7 linked regions of the Homo sapiens genome follow. The protein of the gene in region 1 purifies or fractionates together with the protein of each later gene. This does not show direct contact. Each region holds a gene or a part of one and is shown in the gene's direction. Other genes may lie near its edges. The genes, in order: PFDN4, WSB2, NEDD1, MIOS, KATNB1, ZZZ3 and RC3H2.

Region 1 (4,467 bases):
AGGAAATTGGGACTTTGAGAAAGGAGGAGGCTTGTCAGGGGCAGTTCTCAAGCTGTGGCCCATGAACCTCGGGGGTCCCTGAGACCTTTTCAGGGATCCATGAGGGCCTCCCTTTCCCAACTACATGATTTGTATGAGGCTGGGGTTTTTCATACCTACAACTAGGCAACTAAACAGTGTATTTGGAGAGACTGAATGCAGAAGTAGACATGAGAATGTAACCTTCCATTAAGCCTGATATTAAAGAGATCAGTGAAAATGTAAAATGATGACAATCTTCTCAATTTATTTTTGTCTTAGAAAATATAGTTATTTTTAAAGTGTGATTTTTATTACCATGGAATGGAGTTTTATATTATTTTAAATGAATTAATAAATACATTTTAAAAATTCTGCTTTAATTTCTAATACAGCAAATATCGATAAATAACCCACATAAACAAAAGTTCTTTGGAGTCCTCAGTAATTTCCAGGAGTATAAAGAGGTCCTAAGGCAAAAAAAAAAAAAAAAATTACTAATTGGGAGACACAAGTGTCAGAATATACAGTAATTGTTCAGTAATATTGCTGTAAATTAATTAATAGGATTGCCTAGTCACAACAGCAAAGGCATGGAATCAACCCAGATGCCCATCAGTGGTGGATAGGATAAAGAAAATGTGGTCCATATACACCATGGAATACTATGCAGCCATAAAAAAGAACAAAATCATGTCCTTTGCAGCAACATGGATGCAGCTGGACATCATTATCCTAAGTGAATTAACACAGAAACAGAAAACCAACCACTCATGTTCCCACTTATGAGTGACAGCTAAACACTGGGTACTCGTGGACATAAAGGTGGGAACAATAAATGCTACGGATTCCAAAAACGGGGAAGGAGGCAGGGGAAAGGGGTTGAAAAATTACCTGTGGGGTACTATGTTCACTACTTGGGCAACGGGATCATTAGAAACCCAAACCTTAGCACCATGCAGTATATCCATGTAATAAACCGGCACACATACCCCCCGAATTTAAATTAAAAAAAAATTACATTAAAAGATAGGAGTACCTCCTTTACACCACCTGAATTATCATGGCACATAAATCTCACACCCTATTTGCCAAGGCCATTCGTTCCTAGCTGTTTTACAGGTAGGTTAGCTTTCTCAATGCAAGTCTGTGGGACGGATGGAGAAAAATTCCCCGAGCCCTTTGATCCTGCCCCAGCTGGGCCCCGCCGCGCTGAGCCTTGGGCGCGCCCCCTGCTGCCCGCGGCCGGAGCCGTTCGCCACACCCCCGTGTTTATGTCGGTCCACGGGGGTTGCCTGTCCCTTTAATTGGCATGTACCAAGTCCTTCCAGGTCACATTTCCTCCCTACGTCCCAGCCGTTTGGACTCACTGGCCAAAAGTCCAAGAGGACGGAATGTGGAGACAGTGTTGTATTTTTGCGGGGAGTTCTAGGCCGACCGGGAGCGAGAGAACGCTCGGGGGCGAAGCGCGCCATTGCGGCCCTCCCCGCCGCCTGCGGTAGTCCAGTCCCAAGATGGCGGCCACCATGAAGAAGGCGGTGAGTGGGGAGCTCGGGGCTCTGGATGCTCGGGCGGCGCCGGATCTCGGCCGCTGGGGCCCGGGCGCGGGATGCTGGGGGTGCGCAGCTCCGAAGCCCGGCGTGGGACCCGAGGCCGAGGCCGAGGCCCTGAGAGCGGTCCCGCGGCAAGGCCTGCTCGCGCCTGGCGCCCTGAGCGTTTTCCTAGGCACCTGGCCAGCCGAGGCGGGGCGCCGGGGCTGGGGCCGGGAGCCTCGAAGGACGCAGGTCCGCCTCCCGCGATGCCGAGGGTGCCCCCGGGGAGTCTGAGGAACCTGCAGCCCCGGCCTCGCCCCTGAGGTGTGGGAAGCCGAAGGTCCCGTTGAGTGTGGTTGGCCTTGACTCGGGCGTTGCACCGGCATGATCGCATTAGCCTCACTGGTTATGGGTAGCTGCTGCTGGGAGCGTGGTTACGGGTGAGGAAACTGAGGCCCAGAGATGGGGAGTCACCTGCCCGAGGTTACGCAGCTCATAACGGGGACAGCAGGTTCCTGCATCCCCAGATTAGCAGGCCCCAGAGACCCTGTGTCCAACCTGGAGCTGCCCATTTCCACGCTTGATGCCCCTGAGTCCTTCAGGCTAAAACCAGTATTTATTGAGAATGGAAGATGTGCCGGGCCCAGCAGCCGGCCGTTTATCTGTTATCCTCCCCGCAACTCAGCAAGTGCAATGGGTTCCTCTCCACTTTGCAGGTAGAGAAACTTAGACACAGAGCAGTTAGAGGCCCTAAAGTGACTCAGCTAGTAAGAAGCAGAGCTGGAGTTCAAACTCAGGTTTGTTTTTGTTTTTCTCAAAGCACGCCTGTGTAACCACTAAGCCGGCTAAACTTCCATGTGGGGTTTTTAATCCCGTGAGCCTTCCCAGATGTGTAAAGATAGTCAGATAGAAGAAAAAGAAAATTGGAGAGGGGGAAGGAGATAACGGCTGATAATTTGGGGAGCTTTACAGTGTGCTAGGTACAGCTGTAAGTTGTTTTGCGTGTATTGTTTATTTTATGTTCTTTGAGGGAGATACTGTTTTTATCCTTATTTAACAATGAGAAAACAGGCGCGGAGGCAAAGCTAGCATTTAAACACAGGCATTCTGACTCCGGAGTCTGTGTTTTAAACTGCTATAGGGGGTCTTTGATGAGAATCTCTTGGCTGGAGGGATTTGCGTTCATTCCACTTTTAAGACCACATTAGAACTTCTTTGCTTTGCCCCTATCCAGTACCACATAGTCTATGCCATCTGTGCCTGGTGTAGGGTGACCCATTGCCCCCTTTTATATGAAATTGAGGGACTGCCAAAAATGGGAAAGCCCCAGCCAACTCAGGATGTGTTGCTCACCCTACTATTCTGCCATCCAAAAATTCTTACTGTGTCCCAGAGTAGGGTCTAGGGCCATGGTGATTCAAAAAAGTATGAAACTTTGTGAGATTCACTTCACCTCTAGTTTGTTAAATTGGGCCCTCTGGTGTTAGGTATGGCCTTTAATTCCTTGGAAGATACTAGTTGTGGTTCACTCCGTTTTATAGGTATGGAAACTGAAGTGCAGAGAGGTGAAGTAAATGGTAGAAGAGGAAATGGCAGAAGAATGATTTGAACCTTGGATTTTGATTGCAAAATTTCTAATTACCAACTTTTTTTTTCCTTTCATTGATTCAGTAAATTTTCGGGGGCACGTAATATGGCGTAGTCTCAGTTTTAAGTGGAGACAACTGTGGTGACCAGTGAGAAAGCTCTTCTCCCCTTAATCTCATAGCCCCAAAGAACGTATGTTCCAGGGCAGAGCAGGCATTACTCAGATAGTCAGACAGAAAACTAGTTTCTCTGATGAGAACTGTGAAGGAAAAGTGCTTATGAAATGAGGGCCAAAATGAGGTCTGTTTTGAGATCAGAGAAGACTTTCCTGGGAAAGTGCCATTTAAGTTGAGATCTGTGAGATTATGTAAGGAAAGGAAGGGAGAGTTGGATAGGGAGCGAAGCATTCTAGAGAGGAGTATCTGCAGAGACTCTGAGTGCATTTAATACAAGGAAGGCCCGATGGCAGATAATCAGGGGAAGAGAGTTTGAGCCATGATGGGAAAAGAACTTATAGAGGGGTAGGTGGTGGCCAAAATATAAAGGAGCTTCTTTAACTTTGGAGGCTTTAAGAGTCACATGATAGATGCAGTGTCCTCCTGTAGATGTTTCCAGTGTTAGGAACAATTCCCGATAGATTAGCTTGCATGTACACTTTTCCCCTTTGCCCTCACTAGGAGAAAACATATGTGTATGCCAGTGAGTGAGAGTGAAACAGAGAGAGATAGCCCTTTGAGTTTAATTAAAAGCAAATCGTACAATCTGGAGTACTTTACGTTTGTAACACATCGTATCTCTCAACTGGTCATGACTTTGCTGGGGAGAGTGTTTAGATGAGATGATTCAGTCCTCTCCTCTCTAGAGTTCTGCCTTCTAAGATCCAGTTCTTGACCATAAGGAGATCTGCACTTTGATTTCTGTTCATTATCCTATATACAAATGTCCTTTCCTCAGAGAGGCTACCTTTGACCTTTATCTAAAGAAGCCTCCTTCACTCCCCAGGCCCCCAAAACTTTCTACTCCTAAGCTGTTTTATTTTCATCATCACGTTTGTCACCATTGAACATTATCTTGTTCATCTTGTTTTTTGCTCTCTTCCTCCACCAGGATGTATGCTTGCCATTTGTATTCATGAAAGTGGGATAGTGGCTCTCTTGTCACAGTGCATGGCGTATAGGAAACAGTAATTGTTAAATAAACTACTGCATGGATGAAAGTTGAATACAAAAATTAGCTGGGCATGATGGCGTTTGCCTATAATCCCAGCTACTCGGGAGGCTGAGGCACGAGAATCGCTTGAACCTGGGAGGCAGAGGTCGCAGTGAGCCAA
Region 2 (4,511 bases), on another chromosome or scaffold:
CTGGGTAAAAAAACCCGAAACATTAAAACGGAGAGACCATGGTGAAAAAGAACACGGGAACCTCAGTTACCGTAGAAAACATAGGTTGCGTTAGGAAGCAAAGAAATTTAAAATGGAACCACTGCGATCCGGAGCTCTGGGACCAGTGACCGGCAAATGGAGAGGGCACTTGGAGGGAAGCGAAGAAAGGCGGGGAGAAAGGAATGAGAGGCGGGAGAGTGACTTGAATGAAGCTGACACCAAGAACCGCGGGAAGAGCTTGGGCCCAAAGCAGGAAAGGGAAGCGCTCGAGTTGGGGGTAAGGGGAGGCATTTTGGGGACAATGAGCTGAGCTCAGTAAGAAATCCCCAAGCCACTGATACTACTGGGGACCGGACAACTAAGAAATGGGGTCTTTCAGGCATGAAAAGCCTCCATGATGACTCCTGCCCTGGCCCTGGAATGTTAAAAAGGGGGCGTCTGACCCAAGCGAGCCATTTCTTGAGGCTATGCGGGTAGACAGGGAGAGCAGGTTTCTCAGGGGGACGGGGACAGGCGAGGCTGTCGCCGTAGGTAGGTAAGGGGACAGTCTTCTTCCGAATCGCTCCTGCCCCGTTTTTTATCTCGTTCCCACCCCCACTCCGGTTTTCACCCTGCCCTCCTCTCCCCACCGCCCCGTGTTCTCCTCACTTCCCTCTCCCATTACCGGAGCCATTGAGTAGCCCCCCTTGTTTTACCCTAGCCTTGACCCTCGCCGCACCCCCCAATTCTTACGTCCTCCCCAGCACCCGGTTATTACACCTTCCTTCCACCCCCTCCCCATTTTCCCCTAAGCCCAGCTCTCCCCAGGTTTCTTCTCGGCCAGTATTCCCTCCAACCTATTTCTCCCGCCCCCATTTTTACCCGTTTCCCCCCTCATCGGCCTTCGCATGGCTCCATTTTCACCTGCCCCTCCCCTCGATTTCGCTTCAGCCCCTTTGGTTCCCCTTACCCCCACAGCCCTCGGTCTCCCTCTCTCCGTTCTCCCCGGATCGCCGCTTCCCCTGCTTGGTTTTTCTCTCAGCCCGGCTCTACCACTCTCCAACACCCCCTTTTCCCCTGAGCCCGGCTTCCCCTACTCCGGTTTCTATCGCTCCCCTTTTCCCGGTTTCCCTCAGCTCTGTTCACCTCCCTCCCTTCCCCGTTTTTATCCGGCGCTGGTTCCCCTCAGGACCCCGCACAACCCCTGGGTTTTATCCCGTTCGCGCCCCACCCCGTTTCCGCTCAGCTCCCCCCACCCCTGCCCCATTTTTATCTGGTTCGCGCGTCTTCCCCGCCCCCGTTTCCCCTGAGCAACCCCTCAGCTTTTATCCCGTCAGCGTACCGCCTCCCCGATTTTCCATCTTTTCCCTCAGCTGCCCCCCACCGTTTTTATCCCGTCCGCACCCCCCCTCCGTTTCCCCTGCGCCCCGCCCCCGCGCGTCTCCGCCCGCGCCCACCGCCATGTGACGGGAAGCAGCTGATGGCCTCTCCGGGCGGCGGCGGCGGCCTGGCCGGGGCGGGCGGCGCGGGGGCGGCATGAGGGCCCGCGGCCCGGGGGGCTGAGGCGCCCGCCGCCTGCCGCGGGGGCCGCTCGCGTCCTCCATGGAGGCCGGAGGTGAGTGGGGCCGGGCGCGCCCGTTCCCGCCCGGCGGGGCCCTGGCCCGTTCTCCCCGGGGAGGGGGGAGGCGACCCCGGGGCGGGCTGGGCGGGGTGGGGCGGGGGCTGGACGCGGCGGGGGCGTCCGGCCTGGGAGGTCCGCGCGGGGCCGGCGGGGGTGCGCGCCCGGCGACCAGCTTTGTTTCACTTTCGTTGTCAGTGGCCGCCACCCTGACTCCCGCCGGCGACAGGATCGGGAAGATCGGGCTTCTGCGGGAGGAGATCCCCCGACCGGGACAGAGGGGGCTCCCGGGTGGGACTCGGGGCGGGGGGCACCAAGCCCTAAAACGGAGATCCCCAAGGGGGTGGGTGCCCCTGGGTACCCAGGTGCCAGGGGACGCACTTGCATGTCTGGATGGGAGTCACCTCTGTCCCTCACAAGCTGTGTGATCGTGACAGTGGACAAGCCACTGAACCACCGCCACCCACGTCTCAGTTTTGATCTGCAAAATGGGATAATCCTAGTACCTTCCTCGGAGGGTGGCTGGGACCCGGTAAAAATGGGGTCTGGGGTCTGGGTTCCCTATTGAAACAATCTATTCCCAGCCTCTCCCACTGGAGATTAAGTCAGTGGAGGTGGGGCGGGACTGGAGACGCTGATCCCTGGTGACATGTATGATCAGGCAAATTTAGGATACACTGATGGGTGGGGACCTTGCCTCTATTCTTGTTAACTGCCATCCCCATCAGAAGACAGCGTGGAAGTCAGAGGATATTGGATATACCTCAAGCCAGCCCAGATGAACATAAAATCTCAGTGGGAAAGGTGTGTCTCTTATGCAAGGGGAAAAAAACCCCAAGACGCATGCACGCCTTGGCCCTCTCCCCTCCAACGACCTTCCCTCGGAACCCCACTTGGGATAGATTTAGAATTGATTCCGGGAGTCCCAGGTCTTGAAGGACCCGAGTTTAAATGTAATTTCCTTAGGAGAAATTTTCAGAGCAGGTTCAAGGCCTAGGGCTCAGAATTTGTTCCAGAACTTCATGGTAATCTTGCAGCCAAGTTCAAGCTTCATCCTGGTCTGGAGGGTTCTGATTGCTGATGGCTTGTTACTGTGGGTGGGAAGGTTGAAATCTGGGTATTCCCTGGGGTGGTGTTACTTTTTAATTTAGGAAATGACATTTCTTTGTTTGCTGAAGTCAGGCATTGAGTTAAAGGCAGCTCTCTCTCCTTCCCATCTAGATAAGGGCTTTCTTTTCAGTGAGTGTTACCCGTAGAATTCTTTTTAAAAGGGCCCCTACTGTTTGTGTAGATCCTATGTGAATCTTTTTATAGCTTCCGTTTGATTTCCATTGCCTCCTTACAGTTCAATCTGAAAGCAATCTGTAGCTAGCCTGCCTTTTTAACAGAAATCTGTTTCCAGTTCTGGGGTTTTCCTAAAGATTGACAACTTCGTTTTGAGGGTGTGGGCAGGGTTGTTGAGAGCTGCCAAGTTACTGTACAAAAAAGGCCAGAGTTTTAACTTATTTTCAAATGGAATAAAGCCCATTGTAAAGGAAATACAATGGGCAACAGTTGAAATCTTCAGAGCAATGGTTAGACTTCACTTATTCATTCAGCAAATATTTGTTGAACGTCTACTATGTGCCAGGCACCCTCTAGGCCAGCCCCGACCAACAGAAGTCTAATGTGAGCCACGTATGTAATTTAAAATGTTCAAGTAGCCACATTAAAAAAAAGAAAAAAGAACTAGGTGACAATTTAAAAACTCTTTCAATACAACATGTCTAAAATATTCCTGCTACATGTAATCAAATAAATTGTAATGTAATGTTTTAGATTTTTTTTTGTGCTAAGTGTTCAAAACGTGTTGTGTATTTTTTACTTACAGCCCATCTGAATTCTGACTTGCCACATTTCAAGTGGTTGGTAACCACATGTGATTTCCCTATTAGACAGTGTAGCCCAATAGCAGTGAACTGGCAAGTTTGGGTGGGTTCAGAAAGAGACAGACAATAAATACGTAAAAATGACAGGCAATCAAGAAAATATCAACCAAATGCGCCGGGGTGGCTCACGTCTGTAATCTCAGCACTTTGGGAGGCTGAGGCGGGCAGATCACTTGAGGCCAGGAGTTCGAGACCAGCCTCACCAACATAATGAAACTCCGTCTCTACTAAAAATACAAAATTAACCAGGCGTGGTGGTGCATACCTGTAATCCCAGCTACTCAGGAGGCTGAGGCAGGAGAACCGCTTGAACTGGAGAGGTGGAGGTTGCAGTGAACCAAGATCTCGCCATTGCACTCCAGCCTGGGCAACAAGAGTGAAACTCCATCTCAAAAAAAAAAAAAGAAGAAGAAAATATCTAAGTGATGGTTATAAAGAAAATCAAATGGTTAAAGGAAAGTGAATGGTGCCAGGCGCAGTGGCCCAGCAGTTTGGGAGGCCAACTTGGGTAGATCACTTGAGCTCAGGAGTTTGAGACCAGTCTAGGCAGCATGGCAAAACCCCATCTCTGCAAAAAATACCGAACTATAGGCGCGTGCATGGTAGAATGTGCCTGTAGTCCCAGCTACTGGGGAGGCTGAGATGGGAGGATCATCTGAGCCTGGGGAGGTCGAGGTTGCAGTGAGCCGTGATGGTGCTACTGCATTCCAGCCTGGGCAACAGAGCAAGACCCTGTCTCAAAAAAAATAAAAAATAAAAAAGGAAAGTGTATGGTCGCTTTAGATAGTGAGGCCAGGATGGTCTCTGAGAAGGTGACATGAGGACCAATCCCTGAATGATAAGATGGAGCAACTGAGGAAAGCTTTTGAGGCCGGTGGAATATCTAATGTACATGTCCTGATACAGGAAAAATCACCTAGCTTCCTGCTGGCTGGGGTCATAGCTTTCATCTCTGTGTTAAGGCT
Region 3 (4,018 bases), on another chromosome or scaffold:
GAGACGGGGTTTCACCATGTTGGCCAGGCTGGTCTTGAACTCCTGACCTCATGATCCGCCCGCCTCAGCCTCCCAAAGTGCTGGGATTACAGGCATGAGCCACCACACCCAGCCTATCCTTTTGTTTTATAAGTTAATCCCTCTGATTAAGGATAATACTGGCTTCTTCATTTCTAGTCACACACTCTTTGAAAGCTATTTCTTTTTTAAATAAGATAAGATTTAAATAAAAAGATATGGTAGTTGATAGCTTTTTTTTTTAATTTCAAAGTTTTTCTAGCAGATCTTAAATTATTATGAATTGTCATAATTTTACACACTGGGATAGGTAAAGTAGCCCAATTAGAAAGAAAACAGCAGGACAACTGAATAAAAGCTCAACTAATTTAAAGAGGACTCATGATTTTTATCAATCCTCTCCTAAAGGTATCCAGTGGGATTGACCTGAACTTCAGTTCTAACCCACAGATGTTGGAGACTGGGACAGAGGGAACATGTGCTAACAGTAGAAATGGAGTTTGAGGCACTCTGTTTAACCTGACTTAAGCAGAATCAAGGCATAGAATGTCTCTGGTCGATAAAGGCAGACTGAAGTCTTCAAGAGCAGGCAAAACATCTTAACCATCTTTGGATCTTTGTATCCTAAGATGTTCAAAAAACTTGTTAATGTCAACATCAAAACAATTTCAACTTCTACTCTACCACTATATATATGTACTACTGTTATGCATTATGCCTTAGGATCAGTGAATCAGTATTTGGGAGCTTTTTTTTTAAAGTATAAAAATAACAGATGGTATTTACAAGTGTGACATAATTCTAAGAGTTTTGTGAATATTCCAAATTAGTTGCTATGATTCTTAGCCCTCTTTCCCATAGTTAACAAATTGTATCATAATGCTGTTGGATAAAAGTAAGATTAGTTGAGTTCAAATTTTCAATCTATTTTAATTTAGTTATGAAAATATTTGGAAACATTGGTTTTTTAGCTTTTACTAGTAATGTTTACAGAAACATATTAATGTGCTAATAACCTTTTTGTAACTTCCAAGTCCTCTTACTCGTGTATTATTTGAGGCATTAGACCTTTTCTACTTGAGAAAATAAATTATGATCTTACTGATTTTAAAATTTTAGAGTAGAACTTTAAGTTCATATTTATTTTCTTTGATTTTGTATTTCACCTCTTTAAAGTAGAATGTACCTTTGCCTTGCACCTTGAGCAGTTCAGGATTCCTGTAATAACCACACAATTTCCATTAATTATTTAAGTTCATTAGTTGCATTAATAATACATTATCATAAAAAAGACCTATCAACAGGGTTAGCCAGCTCTAAATATAATTTTTATTTTGAGCCCTTAAGAGTAATTGTAGTTGTTGTGATGATTGGAGTCCCAATATATTGATCTTCAATGGACACCATCTTTTTCTATTTTATTTAAAGGCTGTTTTGATAGTTCTTAGCAAACTGTCCTGATTTGCAGTGACAACCAGATTCTAAAGCTTCTTAGTCTCCCTCAACTAAAGTCAATTCCTAGAATGGTATCTGCAGGAGAATTACAGCAACTATACTGAAACATTGATGTTGTGTGCATCTTGCTATTTTTATATGTTAGTTGATACTCTTGGTCAAAATTTTAGAGCTAGAAGGAACCCTGGGGTCCACAGAAGTGAACACAAATCTATTTGATTTCCTTGAAGCATTTTTGACCCCCTTAAAAGCCGTTGGATCCATGTGGAAGAAAGACAGTAAGAGAGTGGCTCTTTAGTACAAGATTAGCATGTTTATAGTATTTGAACGTGCAATGGGGGAAGGGCTAGAGGAAGGGGATCATATGCACCCTTTAAAGAATCTCTTTTGAGCAGAGGATATTTCTGAGAAGCATGGATTCTCAAAGTAAGAACAGTAGATCTAGTCTTCACCTTTCGTTTCTCAAATGCAGAAGCATAGGCTCAGAAAGGTGAGATGATTTGCCTAAACCTACATAGCTTGCCTTTTAACTTTTCTTGAAGTCATGAAATGTCTCCTTTGAATTTGAAGAATCCAAGGATGCACTGTGGAAGTTCCAACTAATGTGACTTCGTAGTGCATCTAAAGGTTACTTAGGAAAAAAATGCAACACTGTTCTGTATAGCATAGTTACTGATGGCACCACCAAATTGGTGACACTCAAAGATACTCACTGAGAAGAACTTGACAACATCTGTATTTTAGCCATTCTATAAAGATGGAGCATGGATATGGGCCTTGTGCTAGTGAAACTGACATTCTGGCGGGGGACAGGCAGTAAACTAGTAAACAAAAAATACCCAGATATTGGTAAGTTATCATGCAGATAACTAAAATAAGATATTGTGATAGCAAGTTACATTAGGTAGCCAATGGAGGTCCCTTGAAGTGTGGTGGCACTTAAGTTGATATCTGTTGACCAGAAAGTCTTCCAAACAGGGTTCAGTGAATTTAGCTTTCTAGGCAAGGAGAATAGCTGTGTAGAAGCCTTGAGGCAAATATAGGGTTGTATATTTAAGGAATGGAAGGTCAGTATGGCTGGAGAATTAGTGGATGAGGAAGAAAATGGTAACAGATGAGGTAGGGCCCAAATAATAGGACTTTGAAAGCCAGGTAAATGTTTGGAGTTTATTCTTGGTGTGATTGGAAGCCGTTGAAGATTTATTATTATTATTATTATTATTATTATTATTTTTAAATTATACTTTAAGTTTTAGGGTACATGTGCACATTGTGCAGGTTAGTTACATACGTATACATGTGCCATGCTGGTGCGCTGCACCCACTAACTCGTCATCTAGCATTAGGTATATCTCCCAATGCTATCCCTCCCCCCTCCCCCCTCCCCACCACAGTCCCCAGAGTGTGATATTCCCCTTCCTGTGTCCATGTGATCTCATTGTTCAATTCCCACCTATGAGTGAGAATATGCGGTGTTTGGTTTTTTGTTCTTGCGATAGTTTACTGAGAATGATGGTTTCCAATTTCATCCATGTCCCTACAAAGGACATGAACTCATCATTTTTTATGGCTGCATAGTATTCCATGGTGTATATGTGCCACATTTTCTTAATCCAGTCTATCATTGTTGGACATTTGGGTTGGTTCCAAGTCTTTGCTATTGTGAGTAATGCCGCAATAAACATACGTGTGCATGTGTCTTTATAGCAGCATGATTTATAGTCATTTGGGTATGGAAGGAGACATGATCTGATTTACATTTTTAAAGTCCACCCTACTTATGAAGGATGGAATATAGGAGAGCAGGAGTGGAAACAGGGAAACCAGTTAGGAAGCTGCTGTCGTAGTTTGGTAAGGTTTGGGTTAGTGTTAGTAGTAGCTATAGATAAAGGGGAGCCCATGTGGGATTCATTCTTGGGTTGGAGTTTAGAGAGCTTACTGATAGATTGGAGGGGAGGGAGAACAAGAAATCAAGGGTTATTCTGGGTTTTTATCTTGAGAAACTGGATGGTGTCTTTACAGAGATGGGGAACAGTTGAAGTCAGGCTTTGATGACCTGATGTCTGAGACTTGGTCTCCTTAACGGAGATTTGCTGGAAGACTTAGGGCAAGTATCTTGACTTCTTTAAAAAAAAACTTATCCCATCGGTAAAATGAGGGCTGTACACTGGAAATTCTTTTAAAGTCTCTTCTATTTTTAGCATTTTTGAGCTGGGGATTGATTTTAATGTAGGATATTCTGTGGAAATACAAGAGCAGGCTTTATCAAGAGGAGATAGGATGGGCAAACAAGCCCTGATGGGAGACCAGGACTGCCAGTGTTTTCTAAGCTTCCTGTGTCGTCACCGGTCCACAGAAGTGAATGCAAATCTATTTGATTTCCTTGAAGCATTTTTGACCCCCTTAAAAGCTGTTGGATCCATGTGGAAGAAAGACGATGAGAGAGTGGCTCTTTAGTACAAGATTAGCATGTTTATAGTATTTAATTTAACCAATATTTATCATATGCTTACTAAGTGTTGGATGAGACCTGAAAGTCAGCTCT
Region 4 (4,018 bases), on another chromosome or scaffold:
TTTTAGTTTATACTTTCTTTGGGATGGTTATTGTTTGACCTTTAAGAAACTCTGAATGACACTTTTATTTAGGCTAATACAAATTGTTATAAAAAGCATACTTTGATCTTCAAATTGCTTCTTGAATCTGGTGATTAAAATACAGTTTTCATTTAGTATTTTTTAAAAAGAAAGAGATAAGGTTTTTTTACTCTGGCATTTTGCCAGAGGATCCTCGGAAAAACAAATCCTAATACAAAACCTCAGGGGTTTTTTTCTTATCAGGAATATTTCGCTTGGAAATAACTAAAATATATATAGCTATTGGTCTTTAGTACACCTAAAAAATAATTTTTGAATATTCAGAATACTGAATCCTTACTTGCTGGTCCATTTTGAAACCATTATAGTTTAGCTGTAGCATAGAGAAAAACATGAAATTCACTGTAATTTTTTTTGTAGTCTAAAAGTTAAAAAAGTCAATGTTTTGCTCAGATTGGCATCTTTTCCTTCACCTTTGCTCTAACAAAAGTCTCCCTCATTTAAGAGTGCAATAGAAAATAGGTGATGATGGAAAAAAGAATTGATATTTAAAGCCATTTCTAATTATAATTTTGCTATAACTTGAAAGGGTGATACTTTCCTATCTTGTGTACCTGGGAAATTTGGTGGTCGATTTAAACACCCATACTAACAATAGGGAAAATGTATCTTTCCAGTGATTTTAAGGACTGAAGAGAAGACTTCTCTGAGTCAAACATTCTTTTCCATTTAGAAGTAAATTGTTCTATACAAAATCCAAAGATACTTCTTTGCTATTTTTATTTTTATTTTAAAAGACCTTAAATCTAATGTATTAGGCAAAGGAAGCAAGCACAAAGTAACTTGGGAAAGTGTTTATAGAAATGAGGAATATAAAGCTGTTAAGAACATAAAGTGGGAAACACTGCTTTATTTGGAAAAGAAAGAAAAAGATTAGAATCAAGAAATAGATTAAGAAAACTTATATAATAAGTGTAGAAAATACTTAAAAGTCAAAGTTAAAGGAAAATTCAGTTTTTTCTTTTGAAGCTGAACTTCGGTTAGAAGACTAGGCAGCCATACTGCTGAAGGCAAAGTTAGCAGCTTATCAGCATGCATCTAAACTGCTAAGAACAAATGTTTAAAAGACTATTGGTAACAAATGCTTTCTTGCAAATGGGTCTAAATGCAGTTCTGTGGTAATTCTTGTAGTTCATTTTGTCCTGGAAAAATTGTAAGTGTAATACTGTAATTAAAGTATTGAAATATTACTTTCTGCACTTTGCATTGACACTTATATACATAAGTGTCTGCATTATATATTTAGGAATAGGAAAATAAAATGATTTTGAATATTGCAGTCTTGAGATGCAATATTTACTATAAGTGTTTTTGAAATACCTTTACATTAATAAACTTGTTAAAGTTGACAGTGATTCTGGTAGGATGACTTCACTTTTCTTCATTTAGTAAGCAATAACATACATATATGGGAACATACACAGGAATAACTTATATAAGACCCTGCCTGGATTGAGAACTTGAAAAGTAAAAGATCTGCTTCCCTGCACAGAGTTTGCACACATGGGCATGAGTTTTATAAGGGTAGAAATGTTTTGCTTATTGTCTTTGCCAAATTTTCCAGTCTGAATCAAAACCCAAACCCCCCCCTTTTTTTTTTTTTTCAAGAGTAAAGTGCAACTTTATTAAGAAAGTAAAGGAATAAAAGAATGGCTACTCCATAGGCAGAGCAGCCCAAAACCCTTATTCTCTGAGCTCATTTTTCTGAGGGTAAAAGTCACCCTCTGATTTCTATTTATGGTTTAAGAAATGTAGAAGAGATATTAAGCTTTTGATCACTTTGATTAGCTGGCTGTTTTTAATATGCAGGAGATCTGAATCTCAATGTGGTAGCAATGGCTTTATCGGGTTATACGGATGAGAAGAACTCCCTTTGGAGAGAAATGTGTAGCACACTGCGATTACAGCTAAATAACCCGTATTTGTGTGTCATGTTTGCATTTCTGACAAGTGAAACAGGATCTTACGATGGAGTTTTGGTAAGCTAACTTGTTTTTTAAGATCTTCCTTTGAATTAAGATAGGAGTTTTTATCTAACTTTATTAAAATTTTCAAATGTCTGTTGCATAAAATATTATATTTTTATGCATATGTTATTTAAAATAAGGCATCTTGGGCTTTTTTTTTGAGCAGCTCTTCTTGAGTGTGATTCCCGTCCTAGAGTTAGTTAACTGATACCAAACTGGATTTGATTTTTATGGTTTTAATATAATTTACAGATATAGAAGGAATAAAGATTTTATCCTTTAGCTTAAGAACTGAGCTGTAGAAATCTACAGCTGTGTAAACATAAAAATATATTCGCTGTTTACACTGTGCACACATGCACGTGTGTGTGTGTGTGTGTGTGTGTGTGTGTGTGTGTGTGTAGTTAAATAAAACAACTCACGATTATTGATCAGTTATGGTGGAGGTGGCCATACATCTTGTCCCAGTTAGTCTTTGTGGTTCCTGTTAGGAATGATAACAGTACTTACAGTGGACTATTTCAGCTTTTTATTTGGTCTTTGTGTTATTCTTTTTCTCTTCTGTTTTAACCACCTGTGATCATAACACAATCAAATAGGTTCTTTATCACAAAACGGGGAAAGAAAGAATGAAGTGAGATTTGCTTACCAGTTTTAGCTATTGGGTTTTAAGCTAAACAATAGTACTACAACTTTCTTTGCACTACTTGGCTTCTTTCTAGCAGTGGGAAGAACTTTCTACACTGAAATTCATTTCTGTGTTTGCTACTGTACCATTTCTTATCAATTATACATTTCTTGAATAAGTGATTTAAGGATTAGTCCCTAAGAATTTGTAAAAATATGTATTTTATTGGAGCAGCTTAATGAAATGTTTAATAAATGTGTATTTTGCACTTTATGTACTTTATTACTTTTAATAAATTACTATTGAACTTTTTCTGACCAATTCAAATTAATACGTATAATGTTAGGACTTTATTTTTTAACTGTAATTAATCTTTTTTGTTAAACAGAAGACTTTAAATGTATCTTGGAGAGATAAAATAATGCTTTCACGAAGTGTTAGAGAATGATAGAGACTAGATAAACAAGTGGATTGTTAACTTCTGAATTGATAAAAGATGTATATTGTTTAAATATTAAATTTCTGCATTTTAAGTTAAGTGACCCATAATAAGTACTTTTCTTTCCCTTTTTTTTTTTTTTTTTTTTGTTGTTGTTGTTGTTGTTTTTGAGACAGTGTCTTGCTCTGTACCCATACTGGAGTGCAGTGGTGCAATGGCAGCTCACTGCAACCTCCACCTCCTGGGTTTAAGTGATTCTTGTGCCTCAGCCTCCCAAGTAGCTGAGACTGCAGGCATGCACCACCATGCCGGCTAATTTTTGTATTTTTAGTAGAGACGGGGTTTCCTCATGTTGGCCAGAAATATCAATTCTGGTCTCGAACTCCTGATCTTGAATGATCCACCTGACTTGGCCTCCCAAAGTGCTGGGATTACAGATGTGAGCCGCCATGCCCTGCCCCAGTATCCTTGTTTTGCTATACATAAATTTGAGTTATTAGATAACAGTCATCTTGAGTACGAAGTTCATATTTCCAAGCTGTTTCATTTATGTATTTAGTTATACTTTATGTATAAATAATTATAATTAATGTTGCTATTTAAAAAATGTTAATAGTAATGTGAAAAGTACTGAATTGGGAAGTCGGAAAATACAGGCCTGACTCCTTGCTCTGCCCCATTTACCATAGCCATTCAGTTAATTTTTTTGAGTATTACTTTCTCGAGATGTAAAATGGGACAGAATAATGTTTATAACTCTTTCCAGATCAAAATTTTGTAACATATGCAACTGAATCTAAGAGTTAAATCTAGTTATATGAAATATGTTCTCTCTTTAGGGCAAAACCATATTTTATCATAGAAAAAATATGCTAAGATATAGGTATCAACTGAAGTGATCTT
Region 5 (4,189 bases), on another chromosome or scaffold:
GATGTTATTCTGCTAATCTTTTAAAGGTGTCTTGCGGTGACTCACGCCTGTAATCCCAGCACTTCGGGAGGCTGGGGCGGGTGGATCACCTAAGGTCAGGAGTTCAAGACCAGCCTGGCCAAAATGGAGAAACCCCGTCTCTACTAAAAATATAAAAACTAGCCTTAGCCCGTCGTGGTGGCGGGCGCCTGTGGTTCCAGCTACCCAGGAGGCTGAAGCAGGAGAATCTGAAGCAGAAGGCTGAAGCAGAAGGCAGAGTGGGGACTCCCCCACGCTTTGGCTTTCAGAACAAGGGTTCGAATTCTGGGGCTATTACTTTCTGACCGTGTGGTTTTCTGCAAGCATCTTAACCCGGGCCTCAGTTTCCTCATCTGTAAATGGGAACAGGAATTCCTACCTCTTATGGTTGTACTGGGCGTTATGTGAGCCCAAGGAGCCCTGACCTGCGGTGAGAGGCTGGAGGCCGAAGGGCAAGGTTCGAGGGGCTCTGGGTGCCTGGGACAACCTCTGGGCAACAGGGAGAGGCGGCTGCGGGGCCAAGTCCCTCCTAAGCGGCCACGCGAGAGGCCCTGAGTCGAGAAGGGTTACGGCGCTTCCCAGAGCCCACCCCGCCCAACGTGTCACAAATAAAGCTGGCCTTTCTCCGATTCCCTGATTGCAGCCATTCAGGGAGCAGCCCCTTGCCCACGCATCCATTAGTCGAGGCGGTGGCTGCGTGTGCAGTGCTACAGGGTTCAGCGCCTGCCTCGGCTCCGGAATCAGGCTGTTTCCTTCTAGACCTCCCATGGGGGATTCAAGCCGGCGTCCGGGTCAAAGAACAGGGACAAAGTCCTCCTGCCACGGGGGACCATCTGCAGGCAAAGTGAAGAATGAGGAGCTTCGGCAAAATGCCGACTAAGGCCTCCTTAGGTTTTGCCCCACTCCAAGATGGAAGGCCTGAGGCTTCACACTGCCCCCGAAGTTCCTTTCCCATTGGCTATCTGGGAATTGAGTTTTCCAATAATGCGGACGCTGATTGGTCAATCCAGGACGGTTGCTCAAGCCATTGGCGCAGCCGCCATTGGAGGGCGGCTCTCAAAAGTTTTCAGACACAAATTAGGTTCGAGGGAGGAAACGGAGAGGAAAGGGAAAACTTGAGACGGAGGCGGGACTAAGGAAACGGCAGCTTGCATTGGTTTATTAGAGGCCAAGGGGCGGCTCTTGAACGTTCCTTCCTCTTGATTAGTCCTATTTAGGAAAAGAGGGCGGGTACTGAGGAAAAGCGGCAGAAGCGCCTGCTTCCATTGGTCAGTCCTGGCAGGAGGCGGAGCACCCGCGGCAGCTGATTGGTGCGGGAGGCAAGGTGGGCGGGGCTCTGAGCCGGAGGTTTTGTTGTGAGGGTCGGTTGTCAAGCAGCGGCCAATCAAGGCAGGGGATGGAGGCAAGTGGGGGTCGCGCCTGGAGCGGAGCCTCGGCCTCCGGAGCCGCAGCTGCAGGTGGAGTGGGCAAGGGGACGAGGTGGCGAGGGGACGGTGGGCCCTGGGCTGGGCCGAGCCAGGCGGGGCTGGCTGGGCTTGCGGGCAGAGAGCTCTGAGCGTGGGGAGGCTAGAGCCCGTACTCCGCAAGCAGAGGGTTGGGAGGATCAGCCGTGGCCGAGGGACCTGCCCCCGCCCCCGGACGAGAGGGGTCGGGGTGGAGGCCGGAGGGGGCAAAACCAGGGAGGCCGGAAGCAGAGCTGGGGGTCTGCAGAAGGACAGGTAATGAATAGGGAGAAGAGAAGTAGGAGAATGAATGAATGGGAGACCCCGCGAGCATATGGGAAAGGGCAGTAACGGGAGTCTGGCGAGGCAGGGGCCACGTGAGGGATATCGGGAGACAGGATGTGCATAAGTGGGAGACTCAGGGGGCAGGGAGAAAAGGGGGTGTGAACGGAGGACTAGAGAGGCAGACCCGGGGACCCAGGAGAAAGGGGACGGAGGGGAGCGGGCTCATGGGAAAGAGGTGAAGTGGCTGTGGGAAGGAGGTGGGAGGCTCCATGAGGAGGCCTTTTAGAGTTGAAGAGTCATAGCCACTTACGCCCAGACTGGAGGCCTAGTTCCTAGCTCTGTCCTTGGGAATCGCAGGGAGCAGGAGCGGTTCCCTTGCCAGGAGCTGGGGAATTGGACCATCAGGGTCGTCTTCGAGATTCTTTCCAAGGAGGACTTCAGTGGCCGTCTCTGGGATGCCTTTCCTAGGCCCCTAAGCTTAGCTTCTGACTCCGCTCTCCCACATCCCACACGTCAGACAAAAACAACGACTCGCAGGAAATCTATGTGAATTGCAGACACGTGGTCTTCTCCGCCCCACTGCGGCTGCTGCACTTTAGGCAGCCAGCATCCCGGAACAGAGCTGCAGCTCATTATCCTGGCCTCTGGGAGGAGTTTCTTTTTCCTTACGTTCCAAATCACCCTACCTGAGGTGCCCCCTCTGCAGATTCCCAAACCTAATTTGCAGTGCAGCTTCTGACTCTGGTGGCTTTGGTGGGTGTCAGTCTTTATCAAGTGGTCTTGGTGATCCAGGGAGCAACAGCTCTTACCAAGCATTTTCTAACATGACGTCACCTCTTGTTTGTATTGCAGCCCTGTATTGAGCTGAGATGGCTCGAGCCTAACATTCCATGATCCAGGATCGTGACAGATGTGCACAGGCTGCTGCTGTTGCTGCTGTGGGTAATTTGGAACCACGAGGCACCCCAGGGCCAGAAGACGAGGCATTCTGTCTGCCTGGATGTGTGGGAACTCTCTGCCAACTTGATTGGTGGATCTGGGGGGGGATCCACCCCCACCCCACGAGGAAAGCACAGTTTATTTTGTGGGTGGGGCTTCAGGTGCCAGCCAGCTGAAGGATGGCCACCCCTGTGGTCACCAAGACAGCCTGGAAGTTGCGTGAGTGGTTTTCATTTTTCTTTATCACCCCATTTATTCTGTTAGCGGCTTGTTGCTGGGAGGCCTGAACCCACAGCTTTGTTTCCTGTTCTTGGCACAGGAGGAGACTCCTAGACTTGGGAGTAAGATAGACCATTATGTAAATCATGACTGTGGCACTTCTTAGCTGGGTGACACTGGGCAGGTGACTTAACCTCTCTGAGGCTCAGTTTTCTTATATGTACAATGAGATGACGCCTGCATTCTATGGTTGCTGTGAAATTCAAGTGACAGGATGAACCCATCCTAAAGCACTTAGCACAGCATTTCCAGTTAGGCTGACAGTGGGGTGAGAAATCCTGAAAGATGTTCACAGCATTCTCAGACATCTCACAAGTCAAACTTCCCCAGTCAGATAAAAGCATCTTGGGCCTGGGATGGGGGAAGGAGTGGGAGCGAGGAGGGGCGGGCAGAGGGATGCAGACAGGGCTCGGATTGTAACTGATGGGCACTGTCCACTCCCACCATTGCCCTATACAAGTGGATCTGGACTCTTTCATCTGAAGACTTCATACTTTAAGAATTATTGAGGACCCCAGAGTGCTTTTGTTTGTTGGAGTTATATATCTGTCAGTATTTACCACGTTAGAAGTTAATACTGAGACATTTTCAAACAAGAGTATATAATCAAATAGGCCTCTAGTGATGTTCTGGGAAACTCCACCATATGCTTGAGAGCAAATGAGAGTGCAAAAGGCAGATGCCATCTTAGTGTTATTGTGAAAATCCTTTTGTCTTCTCAGACCCCCCGAAAGGATCTTGAGGATCCCAAGCATCCCCAGATCATATTTTGAGAATTCCCCTACACATTGGCACCTTGGTGGGCCCTGCCCCACCTATTGTAACTGGTTGGCATAGCTTTTGTGTGCTCCACCTGGTCACTGTCTGCTGCCAGCTGTCCCTGGGCTGGTTTTCAGGAGCTGGGACAAGACTCCACACTTTTTTTTTTTTTTGAGACAGAGTCTCACTGTCACCCAGGCTGGAGTACAGTGGTGCAATCTCAGCTCACTGCAACCTCTGCTTCCCGGGTTCATGCGATTCTCGTGCCTCAGCCTCCCGAGTAGCTGGGATCACAGGCACCCGCCACCACACCCGGCTAATTTTTGTATTTTTAGTAGAGACGGGGTTTCACCATGTTGGCCAGACTCGTCTCGAACCCCTGACCTCAGGTGATCCACGTGCCTCAGCCTCCCAAAGTGCTGGGATGACAGGCATGAGCCACCATGCCTGGCCAAGACTCCACACTT
Region 6 (3,390 bases), on another chromosome or scaffold:
ATATAAAAATCATATATATGGTAATAATTTCCCTCTTTTGTAGTCTGCACAAGATCCATAAAAGATTGTATTTTTATTACTATTTAAACAAGTGATTAAATTTAGTCTGCACAGTGAGCAAGGGTTCACATGCATTCTTTTATACTGCTGGATTTTGTTGTGCATCATTTAAAACATTTTGTATGTTTCTTCTTATCTGTGTATACAGTATGTTCTTGAATGATGTTCATTTGTCAGGAGAACTGTGAGAAATAAACTATGTGGATACTGTCTGTTTATATTATAGAATGCTTGTTGTGACTTCCTTTTGGTTAGATTTTGGATTTTTTTTTTTACCAGTGTTAAAACCAGAAATTGGTATTTTTTAAAATGGTTTGCTTCACATATTTAAGAGTTTTCTTTCTGTCATTTATGAAGAATAAGGAATGTATTATGGAAAAGAGGGTGATCTTAAGCAACCCTGTAAAAAATGGTAAAGATTTTTACTCAGTGTGTGCTGAAACACTAAATTAAACTAGCTTACAAAAAGGAAACACGGACCATGGTTAAAGAAAAAGGCAATTATTAATGCTCAGGTGTGAAAACTAAAGTTGAAAATTTTTTTTCTAGTTGTGTCTCATGAAGATAAGCCCCCATGTATTTAAACAGATGGCTTTTGAAAAATCACCTTGTTTCCTGGAAATTACTATTAACTATAGGAAAAGATAGTATAAATATTCTAAGATTGATTGTTATATTTGACCCAATTTTTAGAATCACCTGTTTTTTCCTATTTTAAATCAAGGGAACATTATTTACTAGTTCTCTTCAGTACATAGCAGGGTACTAAAATCATACCCTGAATTTTTTTTAATTGAGAAAAGTAATAGAATTTTAAATATAGAAATATGAGAATTTTAAAGTAATATATTGATTAAAGATCACTGATGATATAGATATAATATATCATAACAGAAGGAAAGTAAATGGACTTGAGCTTAACTTCTCACCCTGGAATTATTAGTGGGTGAAGAGGGGAATCATTAGCATTCTGGGCGTTTTTATATTAAATGTTTTGTGAATATGCCAGAAGATCTGCCTTCAACTTGTAATTAGGCAAGATAGTAATGCTTGATGGTAACTTCTATGTTTGTGTAGAAATAATACCAGTTAGTTTTGGAAAGCCATTCAGATCCATTCAAAAATTCCATAAAGTATGATGTATGCTTTGGAAGAGGGATATGAGTGATACAATTGTTATATAAATGGAATAGACAAACCATTTGAATGCATTTTTCTAGGGCAAACATTTTTTGAGATTTTTGAGTTAAGAAGATTTTTCGGCTTGAGCAGAAGATGTGTTTGTTTTGCATTTTTCAGCTCCAAGGAAACAGCCCCCATGGCTTTAAAAGGCCCTGAAGTTCAGATAGTAGTAGGTAGTGTTTTGTTATTGTTTTAATTTGAGAGTTGCAGGAATAATGGGCAGAGCTGTCATTTGCCGGTAGGCTACCATCTGCCTACATAGAATTATTGGACTGTAAGCTAAAACAGACTGTAAAAGACCTACTTGCTAAAGCATTGCTTATTCAGTGGTATTCAGTAGATAAGATCTATTTCCTGATATATTGTGCTCAAGTTATTTGCACATCTTAAGAAACTTTTAATATCTAAAACCATTGTTGTAAGATTTAGGTAGAGGAGGTTTCCTTTTGTGTGATGCATAATAATAGAAAACACTGATACAGTGTTTACTATGTGCCAAGCAAGCATATGATAACTAATTCTTAACAACTCTATGAGGCAGGGTCATTTATTATCCTGTTGTCATATGAGGAAATCTCGCCAGAGAGAAGTTAATTAACCTGCCCAAGGTCGTATAGTTAGTAAAGTGGTCATGCTTGGATTTTAACCTAGGCAGATTACTTCAGAGTCAGCGTCTGCCTTACTATCCTGTTTCCTGAGCAGGAATTTCCCCTTGTGTCAGGCAACACTAGGTGTTAGGAGTGGAGGTGTGCAGATGTTGCCTTACATTCTGTTTTCCTGATGTGGTGTGCTTCCTAAGAGTACAAACCTGAGCATATGTCCAGGCTTGCAAAGTCTCAGGCAAAGCTGGGACTAAGGCTTGTGTTTCCTGCCTTGGGTAGGATTTTCTTCTATGCATGTTGGGTGCTTCTCACTTAACCTAATAGTATGCCTTGTCTGTTTTCCCCCCTTCCCCTTTTTGTTTAAATTGATTCACAGAACACAAAAATTTACTAGGTATGAACATTTGAAAAAATGGAATAGAGAAAATGGTACATCACATGTAATAAAGATAAATATTGTTTTGTGAAATGTCTTTTTCAATCATAAATATGTGTTGTGTGCTATATAAAACTATTTCTTATTGTGGATATTGAAGTTTGAAGCCTGTTGTTCATCTATAGATGCACTGGATGGGATTGGAAGTCTTCAGATTTCAGTAGGGTTTTCCACAAGCTTATGAAGACATTGTTCTGTTTAGGCTGTAAACTGTTTTTATTTCTTGATGAAAAATGTTCTTCTATTTATATGATCCCAGAAAAAAGATACAACTTTTTTTTTCTACAGTTAATGTAGCTAGTTAACTAGAGTTTTCAGAGTTATAATACATTTAGCTCCATGAGAACAGAGACGATCCATGTCTGTCTGTATCTCTAGGGCCTGGCATTTAATAGATTCTCAATAAATATGTGTTGGTTGTATGACCAACATTTTGGTGAGTTTACATTTTTTTCCTCCAGGAACTTGAGAGACACCACCTATGATTGAGTGTGTCTGTGAGATCCTTAGAGGCCTTGCATCAGAAGGTCATCTTGACAGTTCTGTGAGAGGACAGGGGAATTGGACTCTATCTTACCCAAAGGCTGTGATTCAACCCTGGGTGGCAGAGGTGGTTTTGGTTCTCTGTGGGACCCTAGATAGGCTGTGTATCTTGATTCTCTTCCATGTTTTTAAGAGTAGTGTAATGGGGCTGGGCATGGTGGCTCACGTCTGTAATCCCAACACTTTGGGAAGCCGAGGCAGGTAGATTGCTTGAGCCCAGGAGTTTGAGACCAGCCTGGGCAACATGGCAAAACCCTGTCTTTACTTAAAATACAAACAAATGGGCATGGTGGCACGTGGCTGTAGTCTCAGCTACTCGGGAGGCTGAGTTTGGGGGAATCACCTGAACTTGGGACGTTGAGGCTGCAGTAAGCCGAGATGGTGCCATGGCATAATAGCCTGGGGGAGAACGCTGTCTCAAAAAAAAAAAAAAAAAAAAGCAAGGTAATGGAAAGGACACTGGAGTGAAAATTCTGGGTCTTAGTCCCAGTTGTGGAAGTGAAGCACTCAGTAAGTGTTGACAAAGAACTACCTTTCATTGCACATTAGGAGCTAGTAAATGATTCG
Region 7 (4,018 bases), on another chromosome or scaffold:
AAAAAGTCAGTGGTTTCACATTCCCTTCATAATAATATCCAAATTCCCTGCCGTAGTATATAATGGCCTGTATTCTTCTCTAGCCTGTATCATATCTTAACCCTATGTGCTCTGCTTTTTCATGTTTCTGTTTCACCACTTGTTTCTCTTTTAAAAATTCTATTTCTCCCCCTTCTCTTTTTTCCTTTTTTTTTTTTTTTTTTTGAGACGGAGTCTCACTCTGTCCCTCAGGCTGGAGTGCTGTGGTGCTATCTCAGCTCACTGCAACCTCTGCCTCCCGAGTAGGTGGGAGTACAGGCGCCTGCCACCACCATGCCTGACTAGTTTTTGTATTTTTTCTTGAGATGGGGTTTCGTCATGTTGGCCAGGCTGGTCTCAAACTCCTGACTTCAAGTGATCTGCCCACCTCGGCCTCTCAAAGTGCTGGGATTACAGGCATGAGCCACCATCCCTGGCCTCCTCACCTTTCTTTGCTCAGGAAACTCCTGTTTATTGTGCACAAATCAATTCATGTAGCTTTCAGCTGGGAGAAGCCTTTTCTGAAATCCCTTTCTTCTCCCTAATTTAATTCCCTTTCCTCTTTGTTGCCATCAAGCCTTATAACTTTTACTATAATTTTCTACTTACAAGTTTCTCTTTCTTACTAGTGGCTGAAATCATTGAAGGCAAGGATTATGTATTTAGTTATGTAAGTTCTGTTTTGTTCCAGAAAGAATTTGTGGTCAGGACATTATCTTATCTTTGTACCTTATTTCTGTGGTGTCTGATATGTAAGTATCCCCCACCCTCCCTGAAAAAGGAATAAACGAATCAGTTGAAGGGAGAAAGCACAGACCAATTCTGATTTTTCTCTTTTCTATTTTTTAGGTTACCAAAAGAGATGAAGACTCTTCCCTAATGCAGCTGAAGGAGGAATTTCGGAGTTATGAAGCATTACGCAGAGAACATGATGCCCAAATTGTTCATATTGCCATGGAAGCAGGACTCCGTATTTCACCTGAACAGTGGTCCTCTCTTTTGTATGGTGATTTGGCTCATAAATCACACATGCAGTCTATCATTGATAAGGTTTGTGAAATTAGAGATGCTGATGTTCTATCATTGCTGTTACATTGAAGAGTATTAGAATATTCTAAAGAGTCTATACACAAACAGTTGGAGATTCCTATGTTTTTAAATGTCAGACTCTTATAAATTATCCTTATTTTCTTTTTATTTTTCTACTTGCAAAATAAAGGGATGCAACAGGGAAACAAATACATGATACTAGCATAAAAGCAGTGAGGCTTACAAAGTCTCAAATTTATCTATATTCTGACCTCAGAGAGTTAATACAGCTTATAAGTTTTCTAAGTGTCTAATGATGAATTTCATAGGGCAGATTCTGAGGTGAAAATTTAATTCATCACTGATACTCCTACTGTGGAATCTGAAGACACTTGAAAACGTATTAAATATGTTGATAAATTGAAAGTATTTGAGTATAAATGTGTCATAAGAACCAAAGTAAAAAGCATTCTCATTTCTGTTTGTTAGCTACAGTCTCCAGAGTCATTTGCAAAGAGTGTCCAGGAATTGACAATTGTTTTGCAACGAACAGGTGACCCAGCTAACTTAAATAGACTGAGGCCTCATTTAGAGCTTCTTGCAAACATAGACCCTAATCCAGGTATGTGGGAATATGCTCAGTTGCTTATATTTTTTTCTACTTTTGAGGTGAATAACACAAGAGAATTACTGCTAACATTCTTCCCCCCCAACCCCCATGCCCTTGGTGGCTTATTTTAGACGCTGTTTCACCAACTTGGGAGCAGCTGGAAAATGCAATGGTAGCTGTTAAAACAGTAGTTCATGGCCTTGTGGACTTCATACAAAATTATAGTAGAAAAGGCCATGAGACCCCTCAGGTAAGTACATTTATTACATTTCTGACTGCTGTTGTCTCTAACTCAGTTTCATCCTGAACATCTTAACCAGCTGTTTTGTTAATTGGACTCCGTATGTGACTCATAAGTTTCTATCATCTCTATTCTTTTGGGAGGAACCCAGTTTTTAGTGTACTTGGTAAACATTTCATAGCACACCAAGAGTTTAGAGGGTATCTTGGGTGTGAGTATACTTTATTGCAGAATATTTTTGACCAAATGTAGATAATTGATTCCAAACGTTTTGTCTCATTCTTTTCTACTGTGGGAAATTGTCATTTTTTTTCTGTATTGAATTTCTATATGTAAATTTATGGAATTTGAATTTTCTTTCTTTTTTTTTTAGACAAAGTCTCACTCTGTCACCCAGGCTGGAGTGCAGTGACGCTATCTCAGCTCACTGCAACCTCTGCCTCCTGAGTTCAGGTGATTCTCCTGCCTCAGCCTCCCAAGTAACTGGGATTACAGGCAAGTGCCACCACGCCCTGCTAATTTTTGTATTTTTTGTAGAGAGGGTTTTACCATGTTGGCCAGGCTGGTCTCAAACTCCTGACCTCAGGTGATCTGCCCACCTCGGCCTCCCAAAGTGCTGGGATTACAGGCGTGAGCCATCGTGCCTGGCCGAAATTTGAATTTTCAAGATACTTTTCAGTGTACTTTAGAAGTTAAGATATAAACCTGGCCAGGCACAGTGGCTCACGCCTGTAATCCCAGCACTTTGGGAGGTTGAGGTGAGTGGATCACTTGAGGCCAGAAGTTCGAGACCAGCTTGGCCAACATGGTGAAACCCCATCTCTACTAAAAAAAAAAAAATACAAAAATGAGCCAGGCATTGTGGTGGATGCCTGTAATCCCAACTACTGAGACGGCTGAGTCAGGAGAATCGCTTGAACCCGGGAGATGGAGGCTACAGTGAGCCGAGATCGCGCCACTGCACTCCAGCCTGGGCGACAGAGTGACTCTTGTCTCCAAAAATATAAAATAAAAAGAAGTTAAGATATAATCCTTTATACTTATAACTTCTATTTAATAAATTATTATGAGCCATTCACTACATTCAATGTTTTACATGTATTATTTCTTATCCTCACAGCCACCTGCAATGTAGTTGCTGTTTCCAAGCTGAAATTCAAAGAGGTTAAATAACATAAGATTGTGCTGTCAGGGGGCTGGGCGCGGTGGCTCATGTCTATAATCCCAGCACTTTGGGAGGCTGAGGCGGGCGGATCACAAGGTCAGGAGATCGAGACCATCCTGGCTAACATGGTGAAGCCCCATCTCTACTAAAAATACAAAAAATTAGCCGGGCGTGGTGGCAGGCGCCTGTAGTCCCAGCTACTTGGGAGCTCTCTGAGGCAGGGAGAATGGCCTGAACCCGGGAAGTGGAGCTTGCAGTGAGCTGAGATGGCGCCACTGCACTCCAGCCTGGGCAACAGAGCAAGACTCCGTCTCAAAGATAAAAATAAAAAATAAAAAAGGTTGTGCTGTCAGTAAGAGCTGGGATCAAACCTACACTTTGTACTCTTCTCTCCTTATTCTTAGAAGATATTATAACTTAAAATATTAAAAACAAATGTTTTCATCCTAGGCTCATAAGAATAAGAATGTCTTAGATTTTGATGCAAATTGTAGAAGTAATAGTGAAATTTTAATATTCTGCCTCATTGTATGAACTCAAATAGTTTAAGCCTGAGAGTTGCACCCTCAAGCTGACAAGTGAATTGGTAATTTTTCACTTCTAGGTGGAATTGTATTCTACCTTTTCTGAGAAAGTTTAAGTAGACAAAGCTTTTGGTTTTTTTTTAATGCTTTTTAAAATTGTTTGATTTTGGTAGCAGAATTTTAAGACAGCAATAAATTGATGAAAAAATATTTTCTTTTTCTGGGCATTCTGTTAACTAATGAATAAATGGACATAACATTTGAACCAGTTTCGAATAATCTTCAGAAGGAATATCTGAAGTGCCAATTCAGGGTTATGTCACATAACTCACAACAGGAAACAATGGAATATTAGTTGTTTCAGCACAAGAATTACTTGTCTAATGTGAAAAAGAATTAAAGGTGTAATTATAAAGTTCTGAACTTCCTAG

The links.
Region 2: the proteins of PFDN4 (region 1) and WSB2 purify together in Homo sapiens (co-immunoprecipitation; one large-scale study listed by IntAct). This does not show direct contact.
Region 3: the proteins of PFDN4 (region 1) and NEDD1 purify together in Homo sapiens (affinity purification with mass spectrometry; 2 studies listed by BioGRID and IntAct, with this or other methods). This does not show direct contact.
Region 4: the proteins of PFDN4 (region 1) and MIOS purify together in Homo sapiens (affinity purification with mass spectrometry; 2 studies listed by BioGRID and IntAct, with this or other methods). This does not show direct contact.
Region 5: the proteins of PFDN4 (region 1) and KATNB1 purify together in Homo sapiens (affinity purification with mass spectrometry; 2 studies listed by BioGRID and IntAct, with this or other methods). This does not show direct contact.
Region 6: the proteins of PFDN4 (region 1) and ZZZ3 purify together in Homo sapiens (affinity purification with mass spectrometry; 2 studies listed by BioGRID and IntAct, with this or other methods). This does not show direct contact.
Region 7: the proteins of PFDN4 (region 1) and RC3H2 purify together in Homo sapiens (affinity purification with mass spectrometry; 3 studies listed by BioGRID and IntAct, with this or other methods). This does not show direct contact.

The regions. Positions count from the first base shown.
Region 1 is NC_000020.11:54,206,569-54,211,035, forward strand, and holds the start of PFDN4 (prefoldin subunit 4), read left to right. Parts: upstream 1-1,518; 5' UTR 1,519-1,532; coding exon 1,533-1,556; coding exon of another isoform or gene 1,557-1,802; intron 1,803-1,833; exon of another isoform or gene 1,834-2,182; coding exon of another isoform or gene 2,183-2,347; intron 2,348-4,467. UniProt on the Homo sapiens protein: Binds specifically to cytosolic chaperonin (c-CPN) and transfers target proteins to it. Binds to nascent polypeptide chain and promotes folding in an environment in which there are many competing pathways for nonnative proteins.
Region 2 is NC_000012.12:118,058,140-118,062,650, reverse strand, and holds the start of WSB2 (WD repeat and SOCS box-containing protein 2), read left to right. Parts: upstream 1-1,471; 5' UTR 1,472-1,602; coding exon 1,603-1,615; intron 1,616-4,511. UniProt on the Homo sapiens protein: May be a substrate-recognition component of a SCF-like ECS (Elongin-Cullin-SOCS-box protein) E3 ubiquitin ligase complex which mediates the ubiquitination and subsequent proteasomal degradation of target proteins.
Region 3 is NC_000012.12:96,913,558-96,917,575, forward strand, and holds part of NEDD1 (protein NEDD1), read left to right. Parts: intron 1-4,018. UniProt on the Homo sapiens protein: Required for mitosis progression. Promotes the nucleation of microtubules from the spindle.
Region 4 is NC_000007.14:7,583,746-7,587,763, forward strand, and holds part of MIOS (GATOR2 complex protein MIOS), read left to right. Parts: intron 1-1,890; coding exon 1,891-2,060; intron 2,061-4,018. UniProt on the Homo sapiens protein: As a component of the GATOR2 complex, functions as an activator of the amino acid-sensing branch of the mTORC1 signaling pathway. The GATOR2 complex indirectly activates mTORC1 through the inhibition of the GATOR1 subcomplex.
Region 5 is NC_000016.10:57,734,381-57,738,569, forward strand, and holds the start of KATNB1 (katanin p80 WD40 repeat-containing subunit B1), read left to right. Parts: upstream 1-1,389; 5' UTR 1,390-1,475; intron 1,476-2,055; exon of another isoform or gene 2,056-2,264; intron 2,265-2,597; 5' UTR 2,598-2,863; coding exon 2,864-2,903; intron 2,904-4,189.
Region 6 is NC_000001.11:77,561,398-77,564,787, reverse strand, and holds the end of ZZZ3 (ZZ-type zinc finger-containing protein 3), read left to right. Parts: 3' UTR 1-2,372; downstream 2,373-3,390.
Region 7 is NC_000009.12:122,877,644-122,881,661, reverse strand, and holds part of RC3H2 (roquin-2), read left to right. Parts: intron 1-867; coding exon 868-1,068; intron 1,069-1,342; exon of another isoform or gene 1,343-1,449; intron 1,450-1,536; coding exon 1,537-1,669; intron 1,670-1,788; coding exon 1,789-1,907; intron 1,908-4,018. UniProt on the Homo sapiens protein: Post-transcriptional repressor of mRNAs containing a conserved stem loop motif, called constitutive decay element (CDE), which is often located in the 3'-UTR, as in HMGXB3, ICOS, IER3, NFKBID, NFKBIZ, PPP1R10, TNF and in many more mRNAs.